Regions from separate parts of the Homo sapiens genome. Here region 1 is linked to region 2. A link means that fine-mapping ties the variant in region 2 to the expression of a gene that starts in the linked region. Tissue or cell type: T cells. Region 2 holds a variant in brackets; the other region holds the start of a gene. All regions are shown on one strand. Distances are from middle to middle.

Region 1 (4,171 bases), 68 kb before region 2:
TAGCACTTTGGGAGGCCAAGGTGGGTGGATCATGAGATCAGGAGTTTGAGATCAGCCTGGCTAACATGGTGAAACCCCGTCTCTACTAAAAATACAAAATTAGCTGGGCGTAGTGGTGCATGCCTGTAGTTCCAGCTACTTGGGAGGCTGAAGCAGGAGAATCGCCTGAGCCTGGGATGGGGAGGCTATAGTGAGCCGAGATTGTGCCACTGCACTGCAGCCTGGGTGACAGAGCAAGACTCCATCTCAAAACAAAACAAAAAAGAAACCGATATTAGCCAGGCATGGTGGTTCACATCTGTAGTCCTAGGTACGCTGGAGGCTGAGGCAGGAGGATCACTTGAACCCAGGAGTTACAGGTGGCAGTGAGCTATAATCGCACCACTGCACTCCAGCCTGAATGAGACTTTGTCTCCAAAACAAAAAAGAAAAAAGAAACAGATATTGAAAAGTATTAGGCCAAAACAAATATTGTATATAATCATTCTTTACAAGTTCCATGAAAGATATATCTCATTATTTAATATGTCCCCTGGGCCAGGTGCAGTGGCTCACGCCTGTAATCCCAACACTTTGGGAGGCCAAGGCGGGAGGATCACCTGAGGTCAGGAGTTTGAGACCAGCCTGGCCAACATAGTGAAACCCCGTCTCTACTAAAAGTTGGACTTTTCAGAAGGTAAAACTCAGGCTGGAAATGTCTTAACTTATTAAGAGATAGAAGCCTGCTAAGGGAAGGAGAGGGAGAAAAGAGAATGCGAAGGTTGAAGCTCACATCAAAGCTGTTAATTTGCACAACTTTAAGAATCCTCCTCTTGTTACTGCCTAATCATGCAGTGTGAGCCTAGGAAAAGGCTCCTCACCTTGACCTCTTATTGAGATGTTGCATGTGATAACATGCATGGCTGTATGGGAAGAGCTCCTTGCTTTCCCGTGGCCACCCTTTAACCCTTGTTCACTTCCAGTGTTGGGAATAGCAGGTACGAGTGGATATACTTTCCTACTCATACTGAGCTGAACACTGGAGGGCCCGTTCTGGAGATGATCCTTTTCCCTGTCATAGGTCACCATCTCATGAACAACCACAGACCACCACCCCCGAATGAAAAGTAAGAGTTATAAAAACATCGAATGCTTTCTCTCTAAGGGACCATAATGGATATCTAAGTAAGTTATAAAAGTAATAATTAAAAAAAAAATTTTTTTTTGAGATGGAGTTTCGCTCTTGTAGCCCAGGCTGGAGTGCAATGGCGCAATCTCGGCTCACTGCAACCTCATCCTCCCGGGTTGGAGCAATTCTCCTGCCTCAGCCTCCCGAGTAGCTGGGATTACAGGCGCCCGCCACCATACCCAACTAGTTTTTGTATTTTTTAGTAGAGACGGGGTTTCACCATGTTGGCCAGGCTGGTCCCGAACTCCTGACATCAGGTGAACCACCCACCTCGGCCTCCCGAAGTTCTGGGATCATAGGCCTGAGCCACCGCTCCCGGCCTAAAATAATTTTTAAAAACGTTCTGTGGTCGAAATGGATATCCACCTTCCTAGAAACACTGCTTTGCCAAGTTGGACGAAATGCGAACCCTAATTTCCCCACGTGCATTAGCTGTAGTCAATCATATTAGATCTAGGGCAGCCCTCGGTTGCTAGTCGTGGGAAGGGCATTCTGCAAGTGTCTAAAACCGCCCGCAAAGCAGTGGGTAAAGCAGCGGCCTAGAGGGGGCATGGCTGTCCCACGCCAAACAGCGTATTAGCCGCAAAACCAGGTACTGGCTGAACCTCAGTTTGCGTCTTCGCTCCGCCGCCTTCTGGAGTCCTTTCTGCCCCTAGAGGACGCAGGTGAGCTAAGCAGCAGTCATGCCCTTTACCATCATGACGCCCGCAGGCGGGACCACCCGGCACTGTAGACAGCTGCCCTTTACAATCATGACTCATAGAAACTACGGCACTCTGGCCGTGGCCGACGTTGCTCCTCCGAAGCATGGCGCCGGCGGGAGTTGTAACCCGGGCTGTCCGGAGCGGGGAGCTGCCCCTCACAAGCATGGCGTCAGCTGAAAATGAAGCCTGTGCTGTGCGGAGCGTCGCCTGCCCCTCACAAGCATGGCGTCTGCAGAAGGTGCTGTGCGGCCGCTGCGGGGCGGCCAGCTGCCCTTCACAAACATGGCGGCCGAGGGGTGCGGGGAGTGGCGGGGTAAGGATGGGAAGCCGAGCAGACGGCCCCAGAACAAGCGGTCATGTGACTGGGAAGATGGCCGTCTTTCCTTGGTAAGGAAGCAGCGGCGGGTGGGCTTTGGAGAGGGGCTGTCCTTACTTGTGATGGGGTCGGCCTGGGTCTGAGAGTGTGAATTCCTCTCTGTCGGGTTCTGGTGGTCGACCGGCCACCCCCAAGTTGTCTTGACCGTAGAATCCCTGGCCGCTACCGCGGTCCAGCGGAGCAATCTGAAGCCAGACTGGCGGGTTCTTGGTTCTCTCCCCGTCTGCTGCCTCTCTGCGCCTTCCACGGGCCCCTGTCCATTCATTCCCTAAAGAAAACTTGAGTTTCCAGGCTTCCGCGTCCCCAGAAGTTGGCGCGGGTTCTGGGGTCGCTGGATGAGGGTAATGGTGGACTCAGCTTTTAAAGTCTGGACGAGTCGGGAGATCTGGCTGTTGGTCAGTTTCCTCAGCTCCTCTGTTCACCTGGAGACTTGCTTTTCTCATCTGTAAAATGGCCGCCATTCATCCTATCCTAGGCACAGCCCTCAGACTTATTCCTTGGCCTCAAGGAGCTGACAGTATAATGGGGCAGACGCACAGTAGAGGGATGTCTAAAGAAGGCATTCGGATGAGGCACCAAGAAGGGAGTGATTATCCCCACCAGGGGGCTAGGGGAAGGCTTCAGAGAGGAGGAGTTAAATTGGGTCTTGGAGGATGAATAGGAGTCCACCATAGGGAGGGCGTGGCGTGTGCCTGGTTGGCAGGCCCGTAGGTCCCTTGTGGTTGGAGTAGCTAGGAATGAGTGACTGAAGCTTCAGGGTTCAGCAGGTGGTATGTGTGTGAGTGAAGAACTTGAGGAAGTTGTGTTGTTGATGATAGTGGGATTTGGGGACGGGGAATCTCTCCTGCATCTCAGAAAGCGAGATAATTTACTTTCTCTTCAAATGATGTGAAGTAGCTTAGATTAAATGAGCAAATGAAAGACCTTAGAAATAATCAGGTACAACCTTCTGCTTTTGAGCTTGATAAACACTTCATTTTGTCTTATTCCTTTCATTTGCCCAACACTTAAGAGACTGCTTCCTTGACACGCTACATCAGCATTGAATGCCTCTGAGCACTTCCACACCCTGAGGTTTTTTTTTTTTTTTCAGTTAATAGTCATGCTGGCTGGGTATGGTGGCTCACGCCTGTAATCCCAGCACTTTGGGAGGCCGAGGCTGGCGGATCACCTGAGGTCAGGGGTTCGAGACCAGCCTGGCCAACATGGCGAAACCTAATCTCTACTAAAAATACAAAAATTAGCTGGGCTAAATTAGTGGTGGCACGCACCTGTAATCCCAGCTACTTGGGAGGGTGAGGCAGGAGAGTCGCTTGAACCTGGGAGGCGGAAGCTGGAGTGAACCGAGATCATGCCACTGCACTCCAGCCTGGGCAACAGTGAGACTCTGTCTCAAAAAAATAATAATAAAAAATGAAAAAGTCATGCTGGCTTGACCAAAAAGCTAACCAAAAACATGAGAAACATTTGACTTCAGTGGATTTATCTGAAGTTTGCAATCAGAAAATCCAGGAAGATGCTGTCTTAATCTCTGCATCCCAGTACATTTCTACCTTTGGAATTTTAATTTTATATTACAAGCAGGCAAACAGGTGCCATAACGCTTTTAGTATTTAGGGTCTCTATAGTTCCTAATATGGCCGTGCTCTAAATATTTTGTTGTTGTTGTTTTTGTTGAGACGGAGTCTCGCCCAGGCTTGATTGCAGTGGCGTGATCTTGGCTCACCGCAACCTCCGCCTCCCGGCTCAAGTGATTCTTTGCCTCACTCTCCCGAGTAGCTGGGATTACAGGCGATGCCACCACACCAGGCTAATTTTTGTATTTTTAGTAGAGACGGTGTTTCATCATGTTGGCCAGGCTGGTCTCGAACTCCTGACCTTAAGTGATCCGCCGACCTCGGGTTCCCAAAGTGCTGGGATTAC
Region 2 (4,000 bases):
GATAATCAATTCTGTCACTTCTTAGAGGGGAAAAAATCAGTAACCTCCAGCAGACCTGCCCGAGGATCTATAACATTTGGCTCTCCGAACACTTACATGTATTCCCAAGTTCCTTTATGACAACAGAGCCTTTGGTTTTTTAAAGTTATATTCTTGGATGCATTTTTAGTGCATTCATCTTTTGTGAGAGAGGGAACTTTTTAAGCATTTAACTTGTCTTAGTGGTAAGAATCTTTTGTCCATATGTTGGGATTTGCCCTAGTTAATCTTTCCAGAATTGGTGGGCCAGGAGGTCTCATTTATGTGTGTGTGTATGTGTGCATGTGTGTGTGCACGTGCATGCATATGAGATACAGTAAACCTCACGAAGGCATGGGTTTCTGTGTTTTCCTCCCATCTTACCCTCAGTGTCTGGAACAGTGGCTGGTATAGTCATCCCTTGGTATACTTAGGGGATTGATTCCAGGATCTCCATGTATATCTTTTTTTTTTTTTTTTTTTTTTAAGACGGAGTCCTGCTCTGTCACCCAGGCTGGAGTGCAATGGCCCGATCTCCACTCATGGCAACTTCTGCCTCCCGGGTTCAAGCAGTTCTCCTGCCTCAGCCTCCCAAGTAACTGGGACTACAGCCACGCCACCACGCCCGGCTAATTTTTGTATTTTTAGTAGAGACAGGGTCTCATCATCTTGGCCAGGCTGGTCTCGAAATCCTTACCTCAGGTGATCCACCCACCTGAGCCTCCAAAGTGCTGGGATTACAGGCGTGAGCCACTGTGCCCGGCCCCCACGTATATCAAAATCCATGCTGTGAGACTCAAGTCTCACAGTCTCACAGTTGGCCCTGTGGAACCCGTGTATACTTGAGTTTGGTGTCTCACAAATACTGTATTTTCGTTCAGCATATGGTTGAAAAAAATCCGTGTCTAAGTGGATCCACGCAGCTCAAAACCATGTTGTTATTCAAGGGTCAACTGTATACTAAAGTTGCTCGTTAGGTAGGCGTTGAATGATTATTTCTGTGTGTCAGGGAGTGTCAGTGTGATGATTACACAGAATCTCTTTTCCTCTCTTAGCCTTTTCCAAAGGCCACTTTGCTATTGGTCTTTAAGAATGACTTTTCAAATGTAAATACCCAAGAGTGGGTTAGGGAAGCCATTTATGATGTGGTCAATTTTGTCACCAGCTAGGGTGCTTTTGGCTGCAAGGAACAAACATCTAACTAGTCTGGCCTCCACATATAATTCCATGTGTCCTCCTCCACAACAAGTGGAGGCTCTCGGGTGATCAGCTTCAGTGCATCTTTTTGCTCTGCTGTCCCTGATTAGTAGCAAGGTGGGGGCAACCATTCCAGGCATCACGTCCAGAGCCGACAGCATCCAGGGAATCTTTGATTCTTGGGTCCTTGTTTAAGAACAGGAAACCTTTCTCCAAATCCCCCCGAAGACTTCCCATCCTGTCTCAGCAGCTAGAAATGGATCATGGGCAAGGGGAACGAGAGCCACTGTGATTGGTTTGGGTCTGTATTAATCTGCTTGGGCTCCCTTAACAAAATACCCAGACTAGGAGCTTAAACAACAGACTTTATTTTCTCATAGTTCTGAAGGCTAGGAGACCAAGATCAAGGGGCCAGCAAGGTTGGTTTCTGGTGAGGCCTCTCTCCTTGGCTTGGAAACTGCCACCTTCTTGCCGTGTTCTCACATGGCTTTTCCTCTGTGTACACGCATCCTTGCTGTCTCTTCCTATAAGGAGGTTAGTCCTGTGGGATTCGGATCCCACCCTTATGACTCCATTTAACCTAGAATAGTGATATTAGGGGTTAGGGCTCCAACATAGCAATTTAGGGGAGATATAATTCAGTCCGTGACAGAAGCCAACCTAGTTTATGTGAGGCATAGATGGAAATCTGAATAAAATCAGGGTTTTGGGGTAGGGATTCCAACAGTATCTCCAACGTCAGCTCTCACTTATTCAGGCAACATGACAGAGAGGGGTGCCACCAGAAAGGGTGGAATTGCACTTAAGAACCCTCCTTTTATTTTTTTACTTTGGGTCCAGACGTAGATATAGATCCCTTTTTTTTCTTTATTTTTTACTTTTTACTTATTTATTTATTATTATTATTATTATTATTATTATTATT[ATTATTATTATTATTATTG/A]TTTTAAGACAGGGTCTTGCTCTGTTGCCCAGGCTGAAGTGCTGTGGTGCAGTCTTGGCTTACTGCAGTCTCGACCTCCCAGGCTCAAGTGATGCCCCCACCTTAGCCTTCTGACTAGCTGGGACTATAAGCACACACCACCATGCTTGGCTAATTTTTAAATTTCTTTTAGAGATGAGGTTTCGCCATGTTGCCCAGACTGGTCTTGAACTCCTAAGGTCAAGCCATCTGTCCCCATCAGCCTCTCAAAGTGCTGGGATTACAGGCATGAGCCATCGTGCCTACCAGGTCTTTTTTTTTTTTTTTTTTTTTTTTTTTGAGATAGGTCTCACTCTGGTGCCCAGGCTGGAGTTCAGTGGCACAATCACAGCTCACTGCAGCCTCCACCTCCTGGGCTCAAGTGATCCTCCCACCTCAGCCTCCTGAGTAGCTGGGACCACAGGCACGTACCACCACACCCAGCTAATTTTTTAAAAAATTTTATGACTGGGCGCGGTGGCTCACTCCTGTAATCCCAGCACTTTGCAGGGCTGAGGCGGGCAGATTGCCTGAGGTCAGGAGTTCAAGGCCAGCCTGGCTAACAGGGTGAAACCCCATCTCTACTAAAAATACAAAAAAATTAGCCAGGCATGATGGCACACACCTATAGTCCCAGCTACTCGGGAGGCTGAGGCAGGAGAATCTCTTGAACCCAAGAGGCGGAGGTTCTGGTGAGCCGAGATCGCGTCACTGCACTCCAGCCTGGGCAACAGAGTAAGACTCGTCTCTCTGTCTCAAAAAACAAACAAACAAACAAACAAAAATACTTATGTAGAGATGGGATCTCACTATATTGCCCAGACTGGTCTTGAATTCCTGGGCTCAAGCGAGCTTCCCACCTCAGCCTCCCAAAGTGCTGGGATTACAGGCATGAGCCACCACCCCTGGCCTGCACAAATCCCATTTTTGCCACTTATTAGGAAGTGTCTTAACCCTGTCTGAGCTTTGGCTTTTGCATCTGTAAAATGGGGATAATGTTCCATGGACCTCACAAGGACATGGTGAAGAGTAAGAGAGTAAAGGGAAGTCAAGGACTTAGCCCGAAACCTGGGCAGTGCTCAGTGTCCTGTAATTACCTCTGGTCTTGGGCTTGACCTTCCCCAAACCACTGCCCTAAATGATCCTTCTTCCATTGATTTTCTTAAAAACAGGAGCTCTTTTAAAGATATGTAATTGTCTTAAGATAGCTCCAAAGCCATTAACAGTATTCCAATGAGTTAAAAAAAAAAAATCTGCTTCCTTTGGCGGAGGCGGGGAAAATAGACTTCAAACTGTGTTGGAGAAGAAATGTATTGAAGAACGTGGCCTTTGATCCCAGTCTGCCCAGGTTCATGTCTGCCTGCCATCACTAACTGTGCGACCTTGGGTGAAAAACACTGCTATTCGTGGCTTTGTTTTTCATCTGTGAAATGGGAGAATAGAGCCCCTGCTTCAAGGGTGGTTGGGAGAGGTAAGATCGTGAGTGCAAAGTGCTTCTCACCATGGCTGGTGGGCACTAAGCTCTAGCCCAGTGTTTGTTGCTGATATTACTAAGTGCACCTTGGGCACCTCTTAAAATGGGGAAGAATGTGGGGTTACAGAAGAGGTGGGGAGCAGAGTAATTATCGTTCTCATTCATGCCCTGGAGTGCAGGAGTTATCTCCCATCATCCTGTAGTGACCCCACAGATGAGATGATACCACTTGTAGCCTTTCAATAAGGACAAGGAGACCCAGGTTCGACAGAGTTGGCAACTCTTCCGAAGTCTCATCATTGGTAGTTGGTGAGGTTGGATTTGAATCCAAGTGTGCCTGATGCCAGGAC

Which allele goes with the higher level. Positions count from the first base shown, and alleles are read on the strand shown. Sizes are in standard deviations (SD) of each study's normalised expression.
As copies of ATTATTATTATTATTATTG replace A in region 2, the expression in T cells of the gene that starts at base 2,216 in region 1 goes up (moderate effect, 0.57 SD a copy in GENCORD).

Evidence for each region. PIP is the estimated chance that this variant, and not a neighbour inherited with it, causes the effect.
Region 1: it holds the start of VPS35L, and the variant in region 2 is fine-mapped to the expression of VPS35L in T cells (GENCORD, PIP 0.95).

Annotation. Positions count from the first base shown.
Region 1 is chr16:19,553,488-19,557,658 of GRCh38, forward strand. VPS35L (VPS35 endosomal protein sorting factor like) reads left to right here and starts at 2,216. Exons shown (of 31, transcript NM_020314.7): 1 at 2,216-2,259. The coding sequence starts at 2,243. RefSeq lists enhancers at 1,811-2,290, 1,850-2,812, 2,671-2,900.
Region 2 is chr16:19,621,659-19,625,658 of GRCh38, forward strand. All of the region lies in intron 14 of VPS35L (VPS35 endosomal protein sorting factor like), which reads left to right. Among named protein-coding and RNA genes, the nearest start is that of VPS35L, 68 kb to the left of the region's middle. The variant ATTATTATTATTATTATTG/A (reference allele first, on the strand shown) is at 2,141.